2 linked regions of the Homo sapiens genome follow. The protein of the gene in region 1 interacts with the protein of each later gene in a pairwise test. Each region holds a gene or a part of one and is shown on either strand. Other genes may lie near its edges.

Region 1 (7,876 bases):
TTGTGATACAGGTTTCTTCTTTATCCATGAAGAAAAACAGACCTTAGAATAAAAACAGAAATGTCCTTGTGTTTGGAAAACAAACCTACAAATGTAAAGATAATTCAGTTAAGTGAATTTTCCTACCAGGTTATGTTTAAAACAACACAATCCATCACCATTTGCTACTTCTCCACCCCCCAACACAAACCTCAAATCAAAATATTGTTTAAAAAATAACCTAGGGGCTTGGTGTGGTGGCTCATGCCTGTAATCCCAGCACTTTGGGGGGCCAAGGCGGGCAGATCACCTGAGGTCAGGAGTTCAAGACCAGCCTGACCAACATGGTGAAACACCATCTCTACTAAAAATACAAAAATTATCCGGGCATGGTGGCACATGCCTGTAATCCCAGCTACTTGGGAGGCTGAGGCATGAGAATCGCTTGAACCCAAGAGGCAGAGGTTGCAAGGAGCCAAGATCAGACTACTGCACTCCAGCCTGGGTGACAGAGCGTGCTGGGCTTGCCTTGGGAAGATGGCCAATACTGATTATCTAAATTTTTTCTAAGTACCTGTGTTTAATAGTGAGCCTTTGGGAGGCTAGGCGGGAGGATCATGAGGTCAGAAGTTTGAGAACAGCCTGACCAACATGGTGAAACCCCGTCTGTACTAAAAATACGAAAATTAGCCGAGCCAAGTGTCATGGCACACGCCTGTAATCCCAGCTATTCAGGAGGCTGAGGCAGGAGAATCACTTGAACCCGGGAGGCGGAGGTTGCAGTGAGCTGAGATTGCGCCACTGCACTCCAACCTGGGCAACAGAGCAAGACACTGTCTCAAACACACACACACACACACACACACACACACACAAATAGTGAGCCTAGGTCAGGCACAGTGGCTTACACCCATAATCCCAGCACTTTGGGAGCCTGAGGTGGGCGGATTGCTTGAGCCCAGAAGTTCTAGACCAGCCTGGGCAACATAGTGAGACCCCATCTCTACAAAAATATGCAAAAATTAGCTGGGTGTGGTGGCTCATGTCTGTAGTCTCAGCTACTTGGGATGCTGAAGTGGGAGGATGGCTTGAGCTGGGGAGGTCAGGGCTGTAAGTGAGCTGTGATCTCACCACTGCACTCCAGCCTGGAAGGCAGAGCAAGACCCTGTCTTTAAAAAAAAAAAAAAAAGAAAGAAAAAAAAAGTGAGCCTTTAAAGCTTTAAAAGGCACGGTTGCTCACACATGTAATTCCAACACTTCGGGACGCTGTGGCAGGAGGATCACTTGAGCATAGGAGTTTGAGGCTGCAACAGATATGAATCATGCCACTGCACTTCAACCTGGGAGTCCAAGTGGGACCCCATCTCAAAAACAAAAATAAGCAAATAAATAAAACTTTAAAAGACCTTGAATTTATAAGTTAGTATCTTTCATAACACATGACCATCTTCATTAGTAAAATCACCTATGGAGAAAACTATTGGGTAAATATTCCATAAAAGTTAACAAGTTTTTATTGAGTGTCTACTATGAGCCACACTGCGTTAGGCCAAGATAAATAAGTAGTAAACAGTCCCTCTCTCAGAAACATTTTAATCTAGTTAAGGAGATAAACCTACAGAATGTCCATTATATGACTTCCCATTTCACTTGAGTCTCTCATCAATCGTCTGATTTAGGTTGGTAAACCTTGTACTACTCTTTTTTTTTTTTTTTTTGTGAGTCTGGGTTACAAGTCTTGCTGTGTCACCCAGGCTGGAGTGCAGTGGTGTGATCATGGTTCACTGCAGCCTCAAAATCCTGGGCTCAAGCGATTTTCCCACCTCAGCCTCCCATGTAGCTGGGACTACAGAAATGCGCCAACATGCCTAGCCTCATTTTTCGATTAGTTATTAAAGCTCAAAGTTTAAGCAACTTGTTTAAGGCTACACAGCATGTATGTGGTGGAGTGGGCCCTCACACTCAGGTCTCCAAAAACAGATAACAAAAGGTAAATATGTCTAGAAAGTTGTAGAGCATTAGCCAAATTAATGTTATCATTTGTATTCTTTAACTCCAAACCCGATGGATTCCATTATTATTTCTTGCTTGAGAATAATATAAGATTGAGTCAAATGTTAGACTGGATATTTCAAATTACAAATGCTACAATGGGATTCCCTTTCATTATATATCTATGCAGAACTTTAATAACCACAGTGAATTTGTGTGAACTAAAATAAAACTTTCTTCACTCCTTAGTTCTTCCATCCTCAATGTGACGTTTTCCTTTTCAGTTGATATAGCAGAAATGAGTTTCATCACACACATCTGACCTCCGAATTTAAAAGAAGTTCACAGCACCATTTTTTTTTTACAATGGCATATATATCTTATATTTTTGAAAGACAAGAGCTATATATGAAGAGGGAAGAATGAGAGACAGTTAAATAGCTACCCTGTTTCTGAAACTGACGATAGACAAGGAATCCCTTAACATGTAACAGGAAAGGTTTCAGTGAGATAGTAGGAAGTTACTATATTTTGTAAGGCATTTGAATAATTTACTGAAGGCCCTTACTGATAATTTAGAAAAAGAAATGGAAAAGGTTGTCTTTGTGAGCAGGTTGTAGTAAAAGTTCACCCATCTGGCATTGTAATAATTCCAGTCTTAAGAGTCTATGATTTTTCTCAAATAGGCAATTAAACCATTCAAATAGCTATATTTGTGAGGAAACAAACCACCATTCAAAAAAGCAAATCAAACATTAAAAGGCAGGAACAAACAGATTTACAGTAGATTATTAATATAGCCCCTGACTACTGAGAATGGTATCATAAAAGAGGACCTACTTACCTTTCCTAAATCATCCCTTGATCCCATTATAGCAAAAACTTTAGCCTTGACGTACCATGAAGGCTATCACATGTAACACACGGTAACCTGGGTTGTATCTTACAAAGACCTAGAGAAGAGGCAAAGCTTGAAAGACAAAGAGTAAGCAGAACTAAATTCTTCCTCGAGTGTAGTATGCTTAGAACCTGCTGTAGGCAAAATTGGGAATTTAGCAGGTTGTCCTGGATGTCTTCCCTACTTGGCTGGTGAGGTATACCTCAAACTTTTAGTGCAGAGAGACCTCAAATCTATTATTTCCTTTTCCATGCCCTAATCAAACCCTGTTCTCCAGCAGAACCAAATGTCAGTCACATATACCACATTTAAAATTGCTTAGAATAGATAGGCTGGGCATGTGGTTTATGCCTATAATTCCAGTGCTTTGAGAAGCCGACGTGGAGGATCGCTTGAGGCAAGGAGTTTGAGACCAGCTTGGGCAACATAGCGAAACTCTGTCTGTCCAAAAAATTTTAAAATTAGCTGGGTATAGTGCTGCATGCCTATAGCCCTAGCTACTTGAAAGTCTGCAGAGGAAGGATCTCTTGAGCCCAGGAGTTTGAGGCTGCAGTGAGTTCTGATCATATCACTGCACTCCAGCCTGGGTGACAGAGTAAGACCCTGTCTCTAAAAAAAAACTAATAATAAAATAAAATGCTTGAAGGAGTGTCTTACTCATAATAAATGCTATATATTGGCTATTATTACTTTTATCCTATCACTTGCATTTGTATTTTAAGTCTCTCTAATTTAGATGGAAAGGTTTTGTCTGTATTACTGGAATTTGAAATATCAGTGAACAGATGTTGAAGAATATTTTGGGAGACTCCTGAAATAAGACTTTGTAGGCAACCACCTACTCACCAAGTCTAGCATGCTTTTTCTACTAAGGGCTGCACGCCCAGGCAGAAATTATCAAGCTTTCTTTGAACACCAAAGAAAGGTACACCTACTTGGCCAGCTGTGAAGGATTTTATATGGCTCATATGTGCTCAAACATCTATTTGCTGGATTCTAATATACATGTTAATTCAATCAAGATTGGGGTATCTACCCATGAGGGAGGGGAACTGAAGCCACCCCATGGAGATAATTCTACTCCCTTGGCCCAATCCTCATGCCACCTACCCTACTTCACCACATTTGCTGATTCGACATTTTATTCTTCTGCAATTATTTACTTCCCTGCACAAAAATGGAAATCTAAATACCATGATGGTCTCTGTGACAAAAAGTGAAAGGAAACTAACTGTTAGGAATAAAGGGAGATGAACATGCATTGACAGCTCTAATTATATAGATTGCTTATTTGTTTGGTTGTTTCTTAAGTGTTTCAAAACTCTTTCAGAATAAAAGTACTAGGCAAAAGGGGCATATGCCATACAGATTCAGAAAACTTGCTCAAGAAACACCATCATGTTTTTCCACCTCCCTACCTTCCCAGTGACATGTCACTATGACCTCGGTCTCCTGCTTTGCCCAGACTGCCCTCCACCTCGGAACAAACTGCTAGTACTGAGAGACCTCAAATCTATTATTGAATCCTACTCTCATTAGGCAAAAGAAAAAAGACTTCAGATGAAGAATTATGCAATACAAATCAATTGGGAGCCCATCTATCACTGGTCTTATTCCTGGAGAAGTCTTAGTATAATAGATAGAAGAACTCCACTCTTGAAATATTATTTTCCCTTTAGTCCTCTCTCTTAAACTGGGAAAATTCAAAGTCCCCACCATAATAAAGAAATAAGAGGGTTTTTTTTCTATTTTTCCCATTTCCCTATTCACTGCCCTTCCCTCACATGAGCTTGCTAAAGTTCATAGTCAAAATTCACGTCTGAAATAAAGAGGCTTGCAAAAGAAGCTCATGTAATCCCACTCCTTAAATACCACTAAGACACGTGAGATATTGTTTAGATTGTGGACTCTTACTTTGACATGCCAGCATAGGTAGATGGACAGGCAAGCACATCAGATGTCACTGTTTGGCAGCTGATAAAAGTCAGTGGTGCTATAATACTAAGCACAGAGCCACTAGATTAGTCTGTGAGGGAAGGAGATGCCTCTTCCTTCCCTTCAATAGTGGGTTAAACCCAGCTGGCACCCTCTGGAACTACGGGTAAGTCCCTTCTTTATTCCTACTACACTTTTAGGTCTTGTTTTTGTTTTTTGTCCAAATCAGATGAGTGTATACAAAGATGATTTTCAGATAAAAAGTTTGAAAGCCACAACATTATAATGGTATTACACAAAAATTTAAAGAGAAAGCGACTCATTCATTTCATTGAGACTGGAAGGCATTATACAAATGATAGAAGGAAAGATAGCTGTGTGTCATTATTTTTAAATCACCATTTTTCCTTGAAAAGGGACACTTGATCTGATGTAATTGTGGTGATGTCTTATGAACGCAACATATCCTCTATCAGTCTTCTGTGCAAGTCTATGCTATATTAGAGACAGGAAAAAAATGTTAAGATTTTTTAAAAAGGAGACTGAATAGTACTTTATTTATAAAAATCTTTGAAATTCATTTAACATTATTTGGAATAAAATGACCCTGTCATATAACAGAATCTATTATAGAATTAAATTGTTGAACAGTAACTACAAACATAAAGAAAATACAGGATCACCTGCGTAAATGTCTGCATAAAATTTTGACACATGGATAAAATGAAACTTATGAAATAACATATTTTTAATTGGGCTTTTAAAAATATCACTAATTATTAACAATGTAGGCCAATATCAACATGTACAAGACAGTTGCCATTCTGAAAATATATGTAAAGAAAAAAAGAGAACTGTTTCTGGAAAATATCTACTATTTCATAAGCGGTTTATTCCTTGCTATCTGAAATGAGTCTCAATAATGTACCTGCCCAGAAAGAAATTTAGGAATCAAACTCTGGATTCAATTCTGCAACAGACTGAATAAACCGATAACTACAAAACTACTTGCCTTGAAATAGACTTTTTTTTTAGATCTACTCAAGGCCCTCCTTCAGGATGTTTTTCCCCAACAATTTAAATGCCTAAAGTAGTTCATTTCTAAAATGCATTCTAGTTTAATGTATTTGTGTTCATAAACTTGAAATTAAGGAATATTTAACTTTTTAAGTATTCTTTCTCAATAGCGTCTTTCTCTTGGCTGTTTAGTTGCATTTCTGTTTTTTCCTAAAATTGCTAGTTTTAATTTAACTCTAAACTACATAGGCAACTTTGAAATACTATTTTTTGAAGGTATCCTATTATTTAGGATGAAACTCTTTGGTCTGGAAAAGTTTTATTAACATTTTATCCAAGACAGTAACTAAAATAATTAGAAGACTTCGTTTCAATGATGACAAACAATTTGGTTAATTTTTCAGTTAAAAGTTTGATTTGTCATTATCTCAGTATTGGCTTATACCAGATGAAACAAAATAGGCAAATGTATTTTGAATCAATTTATCTGATATTTTCAATGAAAACAGGATTAGTGTGAAAACAATTTATAGGACTAGTCTTTGTGTGTAATGTCTATATATAGTCCCGCTTAGGTTTACCATACTAATGGAAAAAAAATCAGAGACAAATATAATCCTTCAAGGTTGATTTTCATGGCAAATGTTTCATCTGAGAAAAAATGAGGATGTACTGTAGGAAGGCAGGAGGCCCACTACAGAGCTAAGTAGGAGGAATGGCACCTGTCTTTTCTTGGTAAGGTATAGACTAGTTTCATATGTGTCTTATTTACTTCTATGCTTCCTGTTTGCCATTTGAAAAGAAAAAGTAAAAGAGCTAAAGCAATTTCAAAATTAGTCTGAGATCTCCAAAGGTGTGGCAAAAAAAAGAAAAAAAAGACCAAAAAACAAAATTAGTCTAAAATACATACTAAACAAATAATAAAAAGTAAAACTCTAGATAATTAAAAGAACATCAAGACCAACAACTAGGAAGTATAATCTAAAAATAACAGAATTATAAGGTATGATTCTGTTTAAAAATACATAATAAAAACAGAAAAATGTATAAGTGGCTCTGGAATGCAGCCTGTAACATATGTTCTACACAAACATATACACACAGTCACTCCTTAATTAATATCTAGTTTAGTAATATGGTCAATTTGGAATCAAGGAGAGAAAAAGAAGCAGTGAATTGTAAGGTTAAAAAGCAATCCACTCAGCTGGGTGCGGGGGCTCATACCTGTAACTCCAGCACCAAGGGGGGCTGAGGCGGGAGGATTGCTTGCAGCTAAGAGTTTAAGACTAGTCTAGGCAACATAGTGAAACCCTGTCTCTACTAAAAAAAAAAAAAAAAAAGAAAGAAAGAAAAAAAGAAAAATTAGCCAGGCGTGGTGGCTTATATGTGTAGTCCTTACTCTGGAGGGTGCAGTGGAAGGATCGCTTGTGCCCAGGAGTTGGAGGGGCTACAGTGAGCTATGTTCGCCTGGGCGATTAAGCAAGACACACACACACACACACACACACACACACACACACACAAAAGGAAGGAAGGAAAGAAAGGAAAAGAAAAAGCACATCAGATCTGAAAGATGTCAAATAAACAATGTTATTGTTTAAGCAAATATTGTAACAATTATTTTCTCCTTTTGAAGGAACAATATTCTTCAAGAGAAGGTCACTCTACCAAAGCCAGGAGCACAGTATTCTCAGGATCTCAACAAGGAAGAGCAGACCAAGGTTGCTTCTGATTCCTTACAACCTTCCGTAATTCCAGGCTTGTGGCCCCAAATTCAGGGCCCCACCCTTCCAGGAACAAATCATTATAGTAATAATTTGCCTTCATCTTCCATATACCAACTAAGCATGTTTAACTACGAACGTCCAAAACACTTCATCCAGTCCCAAAACCCATGTGGCTCCAGATTGCAGCCTCCTGGACCAGAAACCTCCAGCTTCTCTAGCCAGACCAAACAGTCTTCCATTATCATCCAGCCCCGCCAGTGTACAGAGCAAAGATTTTCTGCCTCCTCAACACTGAGCTCTCACATCACCATGTCCTCCTCTGCTTTCC
Region 2 (7,026 bases), on another chromosome or scaffold:
TAGGGAGTTGCAGATGGCGCAGGCCTCCCTTCCTCCTCAAGGAAGCCAAAGACACCATCACAATCAGGCAGCCAGGAGCCAGGGCTTCCATAGGCCCAGCTCTGTACCTGTAGGGGGATGGAATCTGCTAAAAGTGTTCTGGAGTCATTCTTGGATATCTGCTTGGTATCTTCTCAATATCTTGACCATCTGTGACAATTTTAATCCTCATTTGATCATATTTTATGGTAAATGAGCTTAACTCGATTTTTTTTTAATTTAGATGCCTCCTAATGTACTATAACAGGTGCTATGATAAGAAAGATGAATGAGTTTGTAAAACCCAGGGTAAATAAGGAGTTTACTACAAGAATACAACTTCCCATATGCAAGATGGGGCTGGGCAAGGCTGTGAGAGCTTCTCTTGAATTGAGCCTAAGAGGATGAGGAGAATTCCATGATTGAGGACTCAGAGGTGGACCTCCCAAACAAAGGGACAAAGTTGTGAAAGTGCAGGTCAGATTCAGAGAAGAGCTAATCGTGGAATTTAATTTAAAATAATAAAAGAAAAGGACTTTGATGAACAACCATACCGTTTTTAGCTCTTACATCGTGTAGTTTTCCAAGTAAAAATGCTTTGAATGCTGTTTTTGAGGTATACTACTTCCCTACTCCCACCAGCTTGGCTCGTGTGACCTTCGTTGCATTGAGCCAGTGCCATTTAGGGTAGGGATATAGTTCAAAGAATTCCACAGTATTCTCTTAGACCATACAGAGAAACCTTAACATTGGCAATCACATCTTGTAATGAAAATGAATTTTAAAAAAGAAAGGGGAGAAAACGAACATAATAGGAATAGTACATAGTGGCTAGCTTTGATAATAGTTTTTTTTTTTGTTTGTTTTTTAAGAGAGTCTTAGTATGTTACCTAGGTTGGGCTTGAACTCCTGGGCTTAAGGGATCCTCCCACCTCAGCCTCCCTAGTAGCGAGTACTACAGGTGTGTGCCACCATGCCCAGCTGCTGGTAACTGATTTTTGAGGCTCTGCTCTTGATTTGGATACAATAGTGTTAAAATAGTTTTATGATTTACTGAAAATAGAATGAAATTTTAACAAGGTTTTTAAAAGACCCCAAATAATATTACTTGTCAGTTTTCAAGTGAATTAATATCATAAAGCAATACTTTTCCAAAGGGCAGAAAATTAATTGTAGATTGGCACAGTCATGCAGGATATTATTAAAATAGGTGAGTCTTAAAAAATAGTACCATAACTTATACAGTGGTGTTGATGGCACTTTCTCATCTACCCTATGTTATAAAGTTTTTTGCTGCTGAATTTAAACACCTTTTCCTAAAACGGGCAACTTTGCTGTTTTTGCAAAAAGCAGCATAAGTGATTTTCCAATTCTTTTTCTATTTGCTGAAAAGCAAGTTTTCAAAGATCTTTGAAATCCGTTTTCATTCCTTTTGGAAAACAAATGTAATAGCCTGATCTAGGCTTAAAGTTATTTATTTACTTATGTTTGAGACAAGGTTTCACTCTGTCACCCAGGCTGGAGTGCAGTGGTGCAGTCACAGCTCACTGCAGCCTCAACCTGCAGGCTCAAGCAATCCTCCTGTCTCAGCCTGCCACCTCAGTCTTAGTAGCTGAGACTACAGGTGCACACCACAGTGCGTGGCTAATTTTTTTTTTTTTTTTTTTTTTTTGTAGAGACAGGGTCCCCTGTGTTCTTGAACTCCTGGGCTCAAGCAGTCCTACTGCCTCCACCTCCCAAAGTGCTGGGATTCCAGGTGTGAGCCACCGTGCCTGGTCAAGTTATTTAGAAGACTTTTTTTTGTGTTAATTAAGCTCATGAATACAGATGTAAAACTCTTATATTGTTGACGTGATATAGAACTTAGGCTGCAGCTCAGTTTTGGCATTTTTTCATGTTGAGAATTTTTGCTCTAAATTTACTTAACATTTAGATTTTAATTTACTTAAAATTTACATAAAATTGGATTTCCCTTCTAGAGGGTCTGGTTGCAGTTTACATAGGTCTTTTGCCCCTGTTGTGCCTGTTGTCTAAAATGTTCTTCCCTATCTGTAAATCCCACCCATCTATCAAGGACCAGCTGGCATGCTGCCTTCTGATCCTTTCAGCTGCAGAAAAGACAGGCTTACCTTGGAGATATTGCAAGTTTGGTTCCCGGCCACTGCAATAAAGTGAGTCCCATGAAATTTTTGGTTTCCCAGTGCATATAAAAGTTATAGTCACACTATATTGTATTATATTAAGAGTGCAGTAGCATTATATCTAAAAGACCAATGTATATACCTTAATTTAAAAATCCTTTATTGCTAAAAAAAAAAATGCTATCTGAGCCTCAGGAAGTCATAATCTTTTTGCTGGTAGAGAGTCTTGCCTTGATGTTTATGGCTGCTGACTGATCAGGGTGCTGGTTGTTAAAGGTTGGGGTAGCTGTGGCAATTTCTTCAAATAAGACAACCGTAAAGTTTGCCACATGGATTGGTTTTCCTTTCCAGAGAAAGATTTCTCTGTATCATGTGATGCTGTCTGATAGCATTTTACCCACAGTAGGACTTTCAGAATTGGAGTCAATTTTATCACCCTGCCACGGCTTTATCAATGAAGTTTATGTAATATTCTAAATCCTTTGTTGTCATTTCAGCAATGTTCACAGCATCTTCACCAGGAGTAGATTCTATCTCAAAACACTTTCTTTGCTCATCAAAAGAAACAGCTCTTTATCCGTTCAAGTTTTACAAGGAATTACAACAATTCAGTCACATCTTAAAGCTTCAGTTCTAATTCTAGTTATTTTGCTGTTTATGGCATGCCTGCAGTTACTTTATCTTATATGAATTATGGTATATGTGTGTGATATATGTGGGTCAGTGTTTGTGTATATATGCATCTTTTTTTGTATATGTATGTTTTATTACTTCTTCTAGATTCTAGTTCTTCATCTTCCAGTGTTAATTCCTTGTACAAAGTAGGTCCTTATCATTCACTGGATGAATGAATATCCAAGTTACGGTGTATTTAGTGAGCTGGGATTGGAACAATACAATTGATCAAATGCATTACTGAGTATGTGCCCCATCTAAGTTTGCAGCTTTAGATTGTGGTCAGAGGCTGTTACAAGATCTTATATATTCTATGATGGGCCATATGCATCTAAAGCATGGTGGTTCAGTTTATGAATATATAAAAGGACAATTTTTTGATTAATGTCAGCTTTGAGTTTAGAATGTATCCCAGACATCTTAGTTGCCCTTAATTATTTTTGGAGATATTTTTCTCAGCCATTAATAAAGCAATCCGAATGATGCATTTTTCTCTGAGCTTGAGTTTTTGTATATGTAAAATAATGGCTTTACATTCATTAAGTTTCCTTCTAGCTCTGGGATTCTGTGTCTTACGATGAATTTCATTGAGTGCAAAGTGTAGCACCAAGATAATACATGGACTTAATGAGTATACATGTTTTTTACAGTTTGGACTCTTAATACTTAGTGAATACAAGTCCAGATTTTGTATGACTTCCTGCAGTGGCTTCCATTGCATTGAAAATACAATCTAAGTGTATTACCTTCATTTACAAAGTTTGATGCTATGGCTCTTTCTTACCCCTCAAATCTGAACTTCCACCTCTCTTTTTCTAGATCACCACCCTCCAAATACGCTGGGATTCTTTTTTTTTTGTTTTGTTTTTTTGTTTTTAAGACAGAGTCTCGCTCTGTTGCCCAGGCTGGAGTGCAGGGACGGGATCTCAGCTGACTGCAACCTCTGCCTCCTGGGTTCAGGTGATTCTCATGCCTCACCCTCCCAAGTAGCTGGGATTACAGGTGCATGCCATCATGTCCGGCTAAGTTTTGTATTTTTAGTAGAGACAGAGTTCGCCATCTTGTCCAGACTGGTCTCAAACTTCAGGCCTCTAGTGATCTGTCCCCCTCGGCCTCCCAGAGTGCTGGAATTCTAGGCGTGAGCCACTGCAGACACATAAAATTGTGCTGAAGTATTTCTAATCACTTCGAGTTACAATTCTGTTAAGTTTCATTTTGCCTGCCAATATTATTCTGAAAAATTTCCCAACCAAATCTTTCTTGTACTACTGTGTCATTGCTCACAGACAATTTTTTTCCACATTGGTAGAACCCTGAACTCCATTCATACAGATAATATGAGGTACTTAACTTGTACATTTGTTTAAGTTCCTTATTGATGCTGGATATTAGATCTTTGTCAGATGCAAAGTTTCCAAAAATTGTCTCCATTCTGTAGGTTTTCTGTTGACTCTGTTGATAGTTTCTGTTGCTGTGCAGAGGCTCTTTAGTTTAGATTTTATTTGTCAATTTTTGCTTTTATTGTAGTTGCTTTTGGTGTCTTCATCATGAAATCTTTGCCCATTCCTGTGTCCTGAATGGTATTATGTAGGTTGTGTTGCAGGGTTTTTATAGTTTTTGGTTTTACATTTAAGTCTCTAATCCATCTTCAGTTGTATATGGTGTAAAGAAGGGGTCCACTTTCAATCTTTTGCATATGGCTAGCCAGATATCCCAGCACCATTTATTGAATAGGCAATCCTTCTCCCATTGCTTGTTTTGTCAGATTTGTCGAAGATCAGATAGTTGTAGGTGTGCAGCATTATTTCTGGGTTCTCTGTTCTGTTCCATTGGTCTATGTGTCTGTTTTTGTACCAGTATCATGCTGTTTTGGTTACTGTAGCCCTGTAGTGTAGTTTGAAGATGAGTAGCGAGTAGCATGATGCCTCCAGCTTTGTTCTTTTGCTTAGGATTGCTTTGGCTATTTGGGCTATTTTTTGGTTCCATATGAATTTTGAAACAGTTTTTTCTAATTCTGTGATGAATGTCAGTGGTAGTTTAATAGGAATATCATTGAAATTGTAAATTGCTTTGGGCAGTATGGGCATTTTAATGATATTGATTCTTCCTATCCGTGAGCATGGGATGTTTTTCCATTTGCTTGTGTCATCTCTGATCTCTTTGAGCAGTGTTTTATAGTTCTTCGTGTAGTGATCCTTCACCTCCATGGTTAGCTGTATTCCTACGTGTGTGTGTGTGTGTGTGTGTGTGTGTGTGTGTGTGTGGTGGGGGGCAATTGTGAATAGGTCTGCATTCCTGGTTTGGCTCTTGGCCTGACTGTTGTTGGTGTATAGGAATGTTAGTGATTTTTGCACATTGATTTTATATCCTGAGACTTTGCTAAAGTTGTTTATTAGCTTAAGGAGCTTTTGGGCTGAGACTATGGGGTTTTCTTTCTTTTTTTTTTTTAATTTTACTTTAAGTTCTGGGATACAAGTGCAGAATGTGTAGGTTTGTTATGTAGGTATACGTGTGCCATGGTGGTTTGCTGCACCTATCAACCCGTCATCTAGGTTTTAACCCCTGCATGCATTAGCTATTTCTTCTAATGTTCTCCCTCCCCTCACCCCCCCACCCCCTGACTGGCCCTGGTGTGTGGTGTTCCTCTCCCTGTGTCCATGTGTTCTCATTGTTCAACTCTGACTTATGAGTGAGAACATGCAGTGTTTGGTTTTCTGTTCCTGTGTTAGTTTGCTGAGGATGGTGGCTTACAGCTTCATCCATGTCCCTGCAAAGGAGATGATCTCATTCCTTTTTTATGACTGTATAGTATTCCATGGTGTACGTGTACCACATTTTCTTTATCCAGTCTATCATTGATGGGCATTTGGGTTGGTTCCATGTCTTTGCTATTGTACATGGTGCTGCAATAAACATATGTGTACATGTGTCTTTATAGTAGGATGACTTATATTCTTTGGGTATATACCTAGTAATGGGATTGCTTGGTTAAATGGTATTATTTCTAGTTCTAGATCCTTGAGGAATCGCCACACTGTCTTCCACAAAGGTTGAACTAATTTACATCCCACCAACAGTGTAAAGGCGTTCCTGTTTCTTCACAGCCTCACCAGCATCTATGGTTTCCTGACGTTTTAATAATCACCATTCTGACTGGTGTGAGATGGTATCTCATTGTGGTTTTGATTTGCATTTCTGTAATGATCAGTGATGGTGAGCTTTTTTCTATGTTTGTTGGCCACATAAATGTCTTCTTTTGAGAAGTGTCTGTTCATATCCTTTGCCTACTTTTTAATGGGGCTGTTTGATTTTTTCTTGTAAATTTGTTTAAGTTCCTTGTAGATTCTGGATATTAGACTTGGGCAGATGGGTAGATTGCAAACATTTTCTCCCATTCTGTAGGTTGCCTGTTCACTCTGATGATAGTTTCTTTTGCTGTGCAGAAGCTCTTTAATTATGTGACTCTGGGGTTTTCTAGATATAGGATCATGTCGTCTGCAAACAGGGGTAGTTGACTTTCTCTCTTCCTATTTGGATGTCTGGGCATTCTATGAATATTTGTGTGGTTGAGATAGTTACTGACTTTGGCCTTACAGCTTGATGATAGACTTGGTCCCTTGACTAGAATGCAATCTTCATATGAGACTGTAAAATGAATAAGTGCTTTGTAGGCTGTAAAATACTATTTAAATCTGAGGCATTATAGTAGGTCTTTTCCTCAGAAGGCTATATTCTATATTCTATAGGCTTGGCTCTCACAGTGAAATGACACATTAAACTATATAATAGAATCTTTTTTATCCTCGATATTCTTTCTAAAACTGCACCAAGCAAGATAATGGGTTATTGGATTGTTTGAAACCACACTACTGTCTGTTTGTTGTAAATGTGGAATAATATCTCTCAACATCATTATTGTATTTGAGATGTTGTTGTAAAGATATCTGTAAAGGGCTTTGGATTTTCCAGAAGAGAGAACTTGTAATGAAACTCATTTTTCTTGTTACAGTGGGGCAAGACAGTTGCTGATGTGTTACCATTACCCATCATTTAAAACTAGCAGGCATTCCTATACTACCTACTGTGCTAAAATAAGGAACTGACAGGCCCAGTTAGTTAGCTGTAGCAGTATTTTATGTTGCTGTGGCTGTGGTATCACTGTTTAATTGCAGTTACCAAATCTCTCAGCAAA

The links.
Region 2: the proteins of MYOT (region 1) and ST7 interact in a two-hybrid assay, tested with the Homo sapiens proteins (one study listed by BioGRID).

The regions. Positions count from the first base shown.
Region 1 is NC_000005.10:137,862,984-137,870,859, forward strand, and holds the start of MYOT (myotilin), read left to right. Parts: upstream 1-4,876; 5' UTR 4,877-4,970; intron 4,971-7,457; 5' UTR 7,458-7,668; coding exon 7,669-7,876. UniProt on the Homo sapiens protein: Component of a complex of multiple actin cross-linking proteins. Involved in the control of myofibril assembly and stability at the Z lines in muscle cells.
Region 2 is NC_000007.14:116,956,497-116,963,522, forward strand, and holds part of ST7 (suppressor of tumorigenicity 7 protein), read left to right. Parts: exon of another isoform or gene 1-227; intron 228-2,656; exon of another isoform or gene 2,657-3,321; intron 3,322-7,026. UniProt on the Homo sapiens protein: May act as a tumor suppressor.